Homo sapiens: one gene and its partner. The protein of the gene in region 1 purifies or fractionates together with the protein of each later gene. This does not show direct contact. Each region holds a gene or a part of one and is shown in the gene's direction. Other genes may lie near its edges. The genes, in order: RAET1L and PCDHA7.

What was found.
Region 2: the proteins of RAET1L (region 1) and PCDHA7 purify together in Homo sapiens (affinity purification with mass spectrometry; one large-scale study listed by BioGRID and IntAct). This does not show direct contact.

Annotation. Positions count from the first base shown.
Region 1 is NC_000006.12:150,023,335-150,027,250, reverse strand, and holds the start of RAET1L (UL16-binding protein 6 precursor), read left to right. Parts: upstream 1-1,718; 5' UTR 1,719-1,779; coding exon 1,780-1,864; intron 1,865-3,916. UniProt on the Homo sapiens protein: Binds and activates the KLRK1/NKG2D receptor, mediating natural killer cell cytotoxicity.
Region 2 is NC_000005.10:140,832,589-140,836,504, forward strand, and holds the start of PCDHA7 (protocadherin alpha-7 isoform 1 precursor), read left to right. Parts: upstream 1-1,680; 5' UTR 1,681-1,795; coding exon 1,796-3,916. UniProt on the Homo sapiens protein: Calcium-dependent cell-adhesion protein involved in cells self-recognition and non-self discrimination. Thereby, it is involved in the establishment and maintenance of specific neuronal connections in the brain.

The DNA of each region.
Region 1 (3,916 bases):
GGCCCCCCACCTCCCTCTGCCTTCTGCCCACAGGTCTAGATGCCTTCATGGTGACTAAGACAAGGGGGCACTTGGGGTTGCCCCTTTGATAATGAGTCCAGTGACCATCTAGGGGCTGAGCAGAGGTGTGGGTGCAGCCATGGATTCAGGTGTGGTTGGCCACGGATTGGTGTGCTGGAAAGTGAACCCCACACGTGTGTAGACTCCTCCCTCGGCTCCTGCTCTTCGTGGAAACACAATTGATTACATGATTGAGCAAGTTGTTCACTAGGTCTTTTTAGGAAGGGATGTAGTATATTCTCAAAGACCTCATGCTTCTAGCAGAGAGGCAAAGAAATGTGTGAGCAATTGTCACACAGGGAGATCTGGATGCACCCACTGTGAACCCAGGTCTCAGGGAGCAGGAGGGTGTTCTGTATTGTGGGAACATGCAGGACACACATGGGAGGGGGTATTTGTGCCCGGCTTTGAAGGATGGCTGGCTCTTTGCCCAGGGGGAAGAGGCCAGCAGAATGCGCTGACAGTTGGGAACCACTAGGAACTTTCAGTTGAACCTGCTCTGCTGAGCCCCCTGTGCCATCGGTGGACCTGGGCCAGGGCGGCTGCTGAACTGGGAGCTCAGAGGTAATCTCTCTGAGGAGCTTTCTAAATCAGCAAGCGTGTCACAGGTTGAGATTCTAGGGATGAGGTCCTCAATGCTGTCCTCGATTTTAATGAGCAGCCTTTTGGCCAGTCTGCACTGGGTGAAGCAGAAGCAAGACATAAATTGTTAAGATAATTTTTAAAGCTGCTTAATTTTGGTAAAAACATAGAACATAGAATTTACCATCTTCACCAATTGTTTACTATACAATATGTTGTTTTGAACCTCTGAAACCCTACCTGCTGTTTCTGTAATAAAACCTAGCCCAGGCCGGGCACGCTGACTCATGCCTGTAATCCCAGCACTTTGGGAGGCCGAGGTGGGTGGATCACCTGAGGAAAGGAGTTTGAGACCAGCCTGGCCAACAAGGTGAAACCCCATCTCTACCAAAACTACAAACAATTCGCCGGGCTTGGTGGTGGGCACCCGTAATCCCAGCTACTCCAGAAGCTGAGGCAAGAGAATCGCTTGAACCCAGGAGACAAGGCTGCGGCGAGCCGACATCGGGCCGTTGCACTCCAGCCTGTGCAATAAGAGAGAAACCCCATCTCCAAATACATAAATAGATAAAGAAATAAAAAATAAAACCCAGCCCGGACTGTAACCACGCCCACCGGGGACTGGGGAAGTAGTGGAGGGGACGCGAACAGGCCCATGGCTGTGCCCAGGGCGGGGTGAGCCAGGGACCCCGCGGCGCAAGCGGAAGGAGGGAGAGTGCCGCGGACCCAGGCGGGGACAAGGAGACGCCGAGGCCGCTGAATATTCCTCTGCACGTTTCTTCACCATTAATAAAAAATGCTATAATGATTAAATGAGTCTGTCGTGGAAGGAATCGTGTCCTGGCAGGAGTGGGGCCCGGGCACGAGGCCACCAAGCTGCCGGAGCGGGTGAAGAAGGGAAGGGACACTAGCATGGAAACTGGATTTCGTCCAGACAATGAAACGAAGAGGTGGAACGCGCCCAGTGACTACGCCCAGTAGCATTAAAATCTGGCTTTTCAGAATCGAGGTGACTCATTCCCCGGTACATTCCCCAGTAACTAACAGTATATAAGCCAGCCTTTCAGCACAGAGGTGATTTCATCTTCCAGGATCCACCTTGATTAAATCTCTTGTCCCCAGCCCTCCTGGTCCCCAATGGCAGCAGCCGCCATCCCAGCTTTGCTTCTGTGCCTCCCGCTTCTGTTCCTGCTGTTCGGCTGGTCCCGGGCTAGGCGAGACGGTGAGCTGGTGGATGGAGCCTAAGCGGGGCGGGGGCCAAACCTGAGGGACTGTGGACTGCAGCGGGTTTCAGAGGAGGGAAGGCTTCTGGAAGGACAAGGGAGATCTCCCCGAACTGCGCCCCCAGCTCAGTTCCCCTCCTGGGCTCCTTCCCGCCGGGTCCACTCCCCAAGGCTGTTCTTGCCCCAGTAGGGGCGAAAAAGAGCAGGGTGAAAACGAGGCTGGCAGGAGGGTGGAGGGGCCAGAGGGCTGCGAGGGCTAGGTGGGGCCCGGATTCCTAGTGCAGCCCGGCAGTCCCACCCGCCTTTCGGAAGGAGAAACCAGAGCCCCCCCGGGAACAGAGCTGGGGTCAGGACTGGGTGAAGGGGGGTACCACAGGGATACAATCACAGACGCCCCCACCAGCCACAAGCCTGCTCTGCTCTCACCTGCTCTCTACCACACAAACCCTCCAGCACCCCCAGGACTCCCTGCCTTTGTTTTCCCCGCACTTTTCCTGTAGACACTCACCTGCACCCAGGGGCTCAGCAGATACCCGCCACCCCTCCCCTCACCATCCACTGCCACCACCCAGGTCACATCCTCTTACTGCCCACCTCAGCCCAGCTGGTCACCCCTGAGGTCTCCCCATCCATGAAGGGTACCTCACCACCTCCTACACCACGTCGCACCTTCTGCCTCTTGCCTGAGGACACACCCCAACAAACACACCCCAAGCTCCCCTCAGAACCTGTGCAGGGGGGATGGGAAGCACCATTTCCTCCAGGATGACCCTGGGAACTCTGGTGAGTAGAGGCACCCACTTCTGCCCTTGGGGCCCAGACCGCCTGTTCTTCCTACGGGGGTGTCAGCGTCATAGAGAATAGTCACTGTGTAGACAGGGGTCAGCAAACCCTTTCTAGAAAGGGAGGAAGGATGCCCTGTGATCTTTGCAGGCCATGGGTTCTCCGTCTCTGTGTCCAGTCCTGTCCCTTTGTAGAGCAACAGCAGGCAATGGCAACCTTCAAAGAGGGGGGACCAGATTTGGACCCTGTCCTAGGTTGCTGATCCCAGATCAGGGGATTACAGTGTCCCAGTGCCCCATCCCCTAGGGTGTCATCTCCAAGTGATGTCTCTGATGTCAGTTGGAAAGTAGAAGGTGGCCCTACCTTGCCTGTGGCTTCTGGGTGGTGTGGATGTGATGGGAGTGGGGGTCCCATAGTTGGGGGCTTATTCTCCCCTCCTTTGTGCTGAGTGGCATCCATGGGGACCATCAGGTACCCTCCCTGAAGCCTCAGGTGTGAGCTGAGGGTGAGTGGGTGCAGCCACGTGGTGTCCTGGGGATCAGGTCCAACTGCTTGTGCAACTTCTTGGTTCCCGGTGGCCCTGCTCCTGCCCATCCCAGAAGAACCACCTGCATCTTCTCACTGCTGGGCCTATCTTCCTAATGACCTAGAGGGCGAGGAGCCCACCAGTAATGGGCAGCTCTGAGGCCTTCAGGAATAGGCATCCCTAAGCTTCATTCCATTCTGGTGCCTTGTCATGGGGCCTTCTTTATATGCATGGCAAAAGGCCCCATCTCTGCCAAGGTGCAGTACTCTACAGGAGCCACTGCTTAATGTTGCGATTTCCTTGCTGTGAGTGGCATTGCCTTGTCTCTGAATATTCACATGGAATCTCTGTTGTGATTCTCCAATTAGACATTGTGACCACATGTACCTCTAGGATCTTAGGGGGTCTTGGGTCATTGGGCACTTAAGGTAGGTCCAGCCTCGCTCATCATTCATGGATTGTCTATGGCTGCTTTTGAGCTTCAACAGCAGAGTTGAGTAGTTACAATGGAGAATATATTCCCTGAACACCTTTACATGTTTACAAAATTGCCCTTCACAGCAAACTCTATTGGCCATAAATATCTCTGGAGAAGGCCACAAGGACTCACTGTCCTGGCTGCAGGGTTAAAGGGTCCTTCCTCACTAGAAACTGGTGTCTTCTTATAGTCATGGGTTCAGGGTCTGAGAAGTGGCTTCATTCTGCAAATTAGGCAAAGCAGCCTCGTTCTTGATGGACTGGC
Region 2 (3,916 bases), on another chromosome or scaffold:
GAACTATAGCGTTGCTAGTGAGTAAATGTTTTTTAAAAAGTTCCTAGGAGGGTCTTTAAGAGTATCACACTGTGCCTGCTGAGAATCATCGAATTAACAAGACCTGGCTTCAAATTTAATAGATAAATAAAGGTAAGTATCCTACATAAATACGATGATAGTAAAAGCAAGAATATTGTAAGAGGTGCTAGAAAGGTACATCATAGTGTTATTGGAATTGGAAAAAAATCTTTGCCTTTTTCCCTTGTTGAAGGAGACCGTGAAGAGTCATGATGTTTTACTGGTTATAAAATGGAAAGAGTTTTCCCTGGGAGAATATGGAGACTAACAGGTATTCATGAGAAGAGAGTAACTTAAGTGAGTATACAGAAAATTCCAAATGTACCTAGAAATGAGGAATAGTCCACTTTGGGTAAAGCACATGGTTCCCATAAGAGAGAGTGTGATATAAAGCAAGAAAAGTAATATGAGAAAAACCTTTTGTATAACTTTGAGTACTAGACGAGTAATTTTGACACTCTTCAAAGTCATTTGAAAGCTGTCAAAAAGTGTGAAGCAATACGAATAAAAAGTATTAACGGAAGATGACTGCAAGGATTAAATGAAGGAGAATGAAATAGGAATGGACAGGTTACACAATAAGAAGCTACTGCAATACACCAGGAGAGCAGCAATTATAAAAACTTATTTAGGAAAGCATCTGAATACAGACATAATTATTTTACATGCCATTGGGAACATTGGAGTGAAACATTCCAGAAAACGAACACAGTAAGGTAGATCCAAAAAGGATGAAATACCTCAAGACTTGATCAAAGGGCTGCTGTATGTGAGATGGCTGAGCACTGAAATTTATCTAATAAAATAAACTTACATTTTAAAAGAAATAATACAAATCATATTTGAGATTGTAAAAATAGGCATATATTCATAACACACAAGTGTTCGAAAGGATAGAATGAGGAAACAAATATAAAATGATGAACTCCTGAAACAGTATATATAGATTCTGCTAAAGCAAAAAATTCAGAATACTTCCTCCTCAAAAAGTTCACATGATACAAATTCTTCCCCTTCAAAGATTCCCCAAACCTTCTCTTATTTTGTTTTCCCAAGAGAAGTGTCTGGATAGTTGCTAATGTTTCTTGCCTCCTAAAAAGAAAACACACACACACACACCGCTTTCTAAGTTTCTCTTTCATCAATCAGTAGATTCTTGAGATCCTGGGTCCCTAAAAGAGTACAGGATTTTTCTTAACAAGCGATACTGAATCAAGAATATGAAGTTTCCTGGGATCTAGATCAAAGGAATTTAAACTTGCAGTTGTTTAAATTCATGTTGTCACTTAGGTTTCTATCTTTATTTAAAACTGTGTGAAAAAAAAGTTTTTCTAAGGCATGAGGAAGCTACAGTTCTGGTAACACTGAGTATTCAAAAGCCATCAGTCGCCTAAGAATGCTTCTAACAATCATGAGAAATGCTATTTTAACCTTTAACAACAATGAAGAAAAAAATTCAGAGTTTGAAATAAAACTTTTCATCTGATTAATAGTTTGTAATGGTTTGTAATTCTTACTTACATGATGGCCACATGATGTCGCTCTTTACCGCAAATTCTTTCGTAATCAGCAAAAGGAAGTCATTCCTTTTCGCACTGGAAAGACGCTCCACTCTCTTTCACTCTTTGGATGCACAACAATGGCCACACATCGAGATTGAAATGAAGGGATAAAAACATTCCTATAAATTCGAAGGCAAGTTTTGCTGACTAGAAAAACAAGCCAATAATTTGAAATGGTGTGCCCGAATGGATACGACCCAGGGGGCCGACATCTACTGCTGTTTATTATAATTCTAGCAGCTTGGGAGGCAGGGAGAGGCCAGCTCCACTACTCGGTCCCCGAGGAGGCTAAACATGGCAACTTCGTGGGCCGCATCGCGCAGGACCTGGGGCTGGAGCTGGCGGAGCTGGTGCCGCGCCTGTTCCGGGCGGTGTGCAAATTCCGTGGGGATCTTCTGGAGGTAAATCTGCAGAATGGCATTTTGTTTGTGAATTCTCGGATCGACCGCGAGGAGCTGTGCGGGCGGAGCGCGGAGTGCAGCATCCACCTGGAGGTGATCGTGGAAAGGCCGCTGCAGGTTTTCCATGTGGACGTGGAGGTGAAGGACATTAACGACAACCCTCCGGTGTTCCCAGCGACACAAAGGAATCTGTTCATCGCGGAATCCAGGCCGCTTGACTCTCGGTTTCCACTAGAGGGCGCGTCCGATGCAGATATCGGGGAGAACGCCCTGCTCACTTACAGACTGAGCCCCAATGAGTATTTCTTCCTGGACGTGCCAACCAGCAACCAGCAGGTAAAACCTCTTGGACTTGTATTACGGAAACTTTTAGACAGAGAAGAAACTCCGGAGCTTCATTTATTGCTCACGGCCACCGATGGAGGCAAACCCGAGCTGACTGGCACCGTTCAATTACTCATCACGGTACTGGACAACAATGACAATGCCCCAGTGTTCGACAGAACCCTGTATACGGTGAAATTACCAGAAAACGTTTCTATCGGAACGCTGGTGATTCACCCCAATGCCTCAGATTTAGACGAAGGCTTGAATGGGGATATTATTTACTCCTTCTCCAGTGATGTTTCTCCAGATATAAAATCCAAGTTCCACATGGACCCCTTAAGTGGGGCAATCACAGTGATAGGACATATGGATTTTGAAGAAAGTAGAGCACACAAGATCCCAGTCGAGGCTGTCGATAAAGGCTTCCCACCCCTGGCTGGTCATTGTACAGTTCTTGTGGAAGTTGTGGATGTAAATGACAATGCTCCACAGTTGACTCTCACTTCCCTGTCTCTCCCTATTCCAGAGGACGCCCAACCAGGTACCGTCATCACATTGATTAGCGTGTTTGACCGAGATTTTGGAGTCAACGGACAGGTTACCTGCTCCCTGACGCCCCGCGTTCCCTTCAAGTTGGTGTCCACCTTCAAGAATTACTATTCATTGGTGCTGGACAGCGCTCTGGACCGCGAGAGTGTGTCCGCCTATGAGCTGGTGGTTACCGCGCGGGACGGGGGCTCGCCTTCTCTGTGGGCCACTGCTAGCGTGTCCGTGGAGGTGGCCGACGTGAACGACAACGCCCCGGCGTTCGCGCAGCCCGAGTATACGGTGTTCGTGAAGGAGAACAACCCGCCGGGCTGCCACATCTTCACTGTGTCGGCGGGGGACGCGGACGCGCAGAAGAACGCGCTGGTGTCCTACTCGCTGGTGGAGCTGCGGGTGGGCGAGCGCGCGCTGTCGAGCTACGTGTCAGTGCACGCGGAGAGCGGCAAGGTGTACGCGCTGCAGCCGTTGGACCACGAGGAGCTGGAGCTGTTGCAGTTCCAGGTGAGCGCGCGCGATGCGGGCGTGCCGCCTCTGGGCAGCAACGTGACGCTGCAGGTGTTCGTGCTGGACGAGAACGACAACGCGCCGGCACTGCTGGCGCCTCGGGTGGGTGGCACTGGTGGCGCAGTGAGAGAGCTTGTGCCGCGGTCTGTGGGCGCGGGCCATGTGGTGGCGAAGGTACGTGCAGTTGACGCTGACTCAGGCTACAACGCGTGGCTTTCGTATGAGTTGCAACCGGTGGCGGCCGGTGCGAGCATCCCGTTCCGCGTGGGGCTGTACACTGGTGAGATCAGCACGACACGAGCCCTAGATGAGACGGACGCACCGCGCCACCGCCTTCTGGTGCTTGTGAAGGACCACGGGGAGCCCTCGCTGACAGCCACAGCCACCGTGCTGGTGTCGCTGGTGGAAAGCGGCCAGGCACCAAAGGCGTCGTCGCGGGCATCGTTGGGCATTGCAGGCCCAGAGACCGAGCTGGTGGATGTCAACGTGTACCTGATCATCGCCATCTGCGCGGTG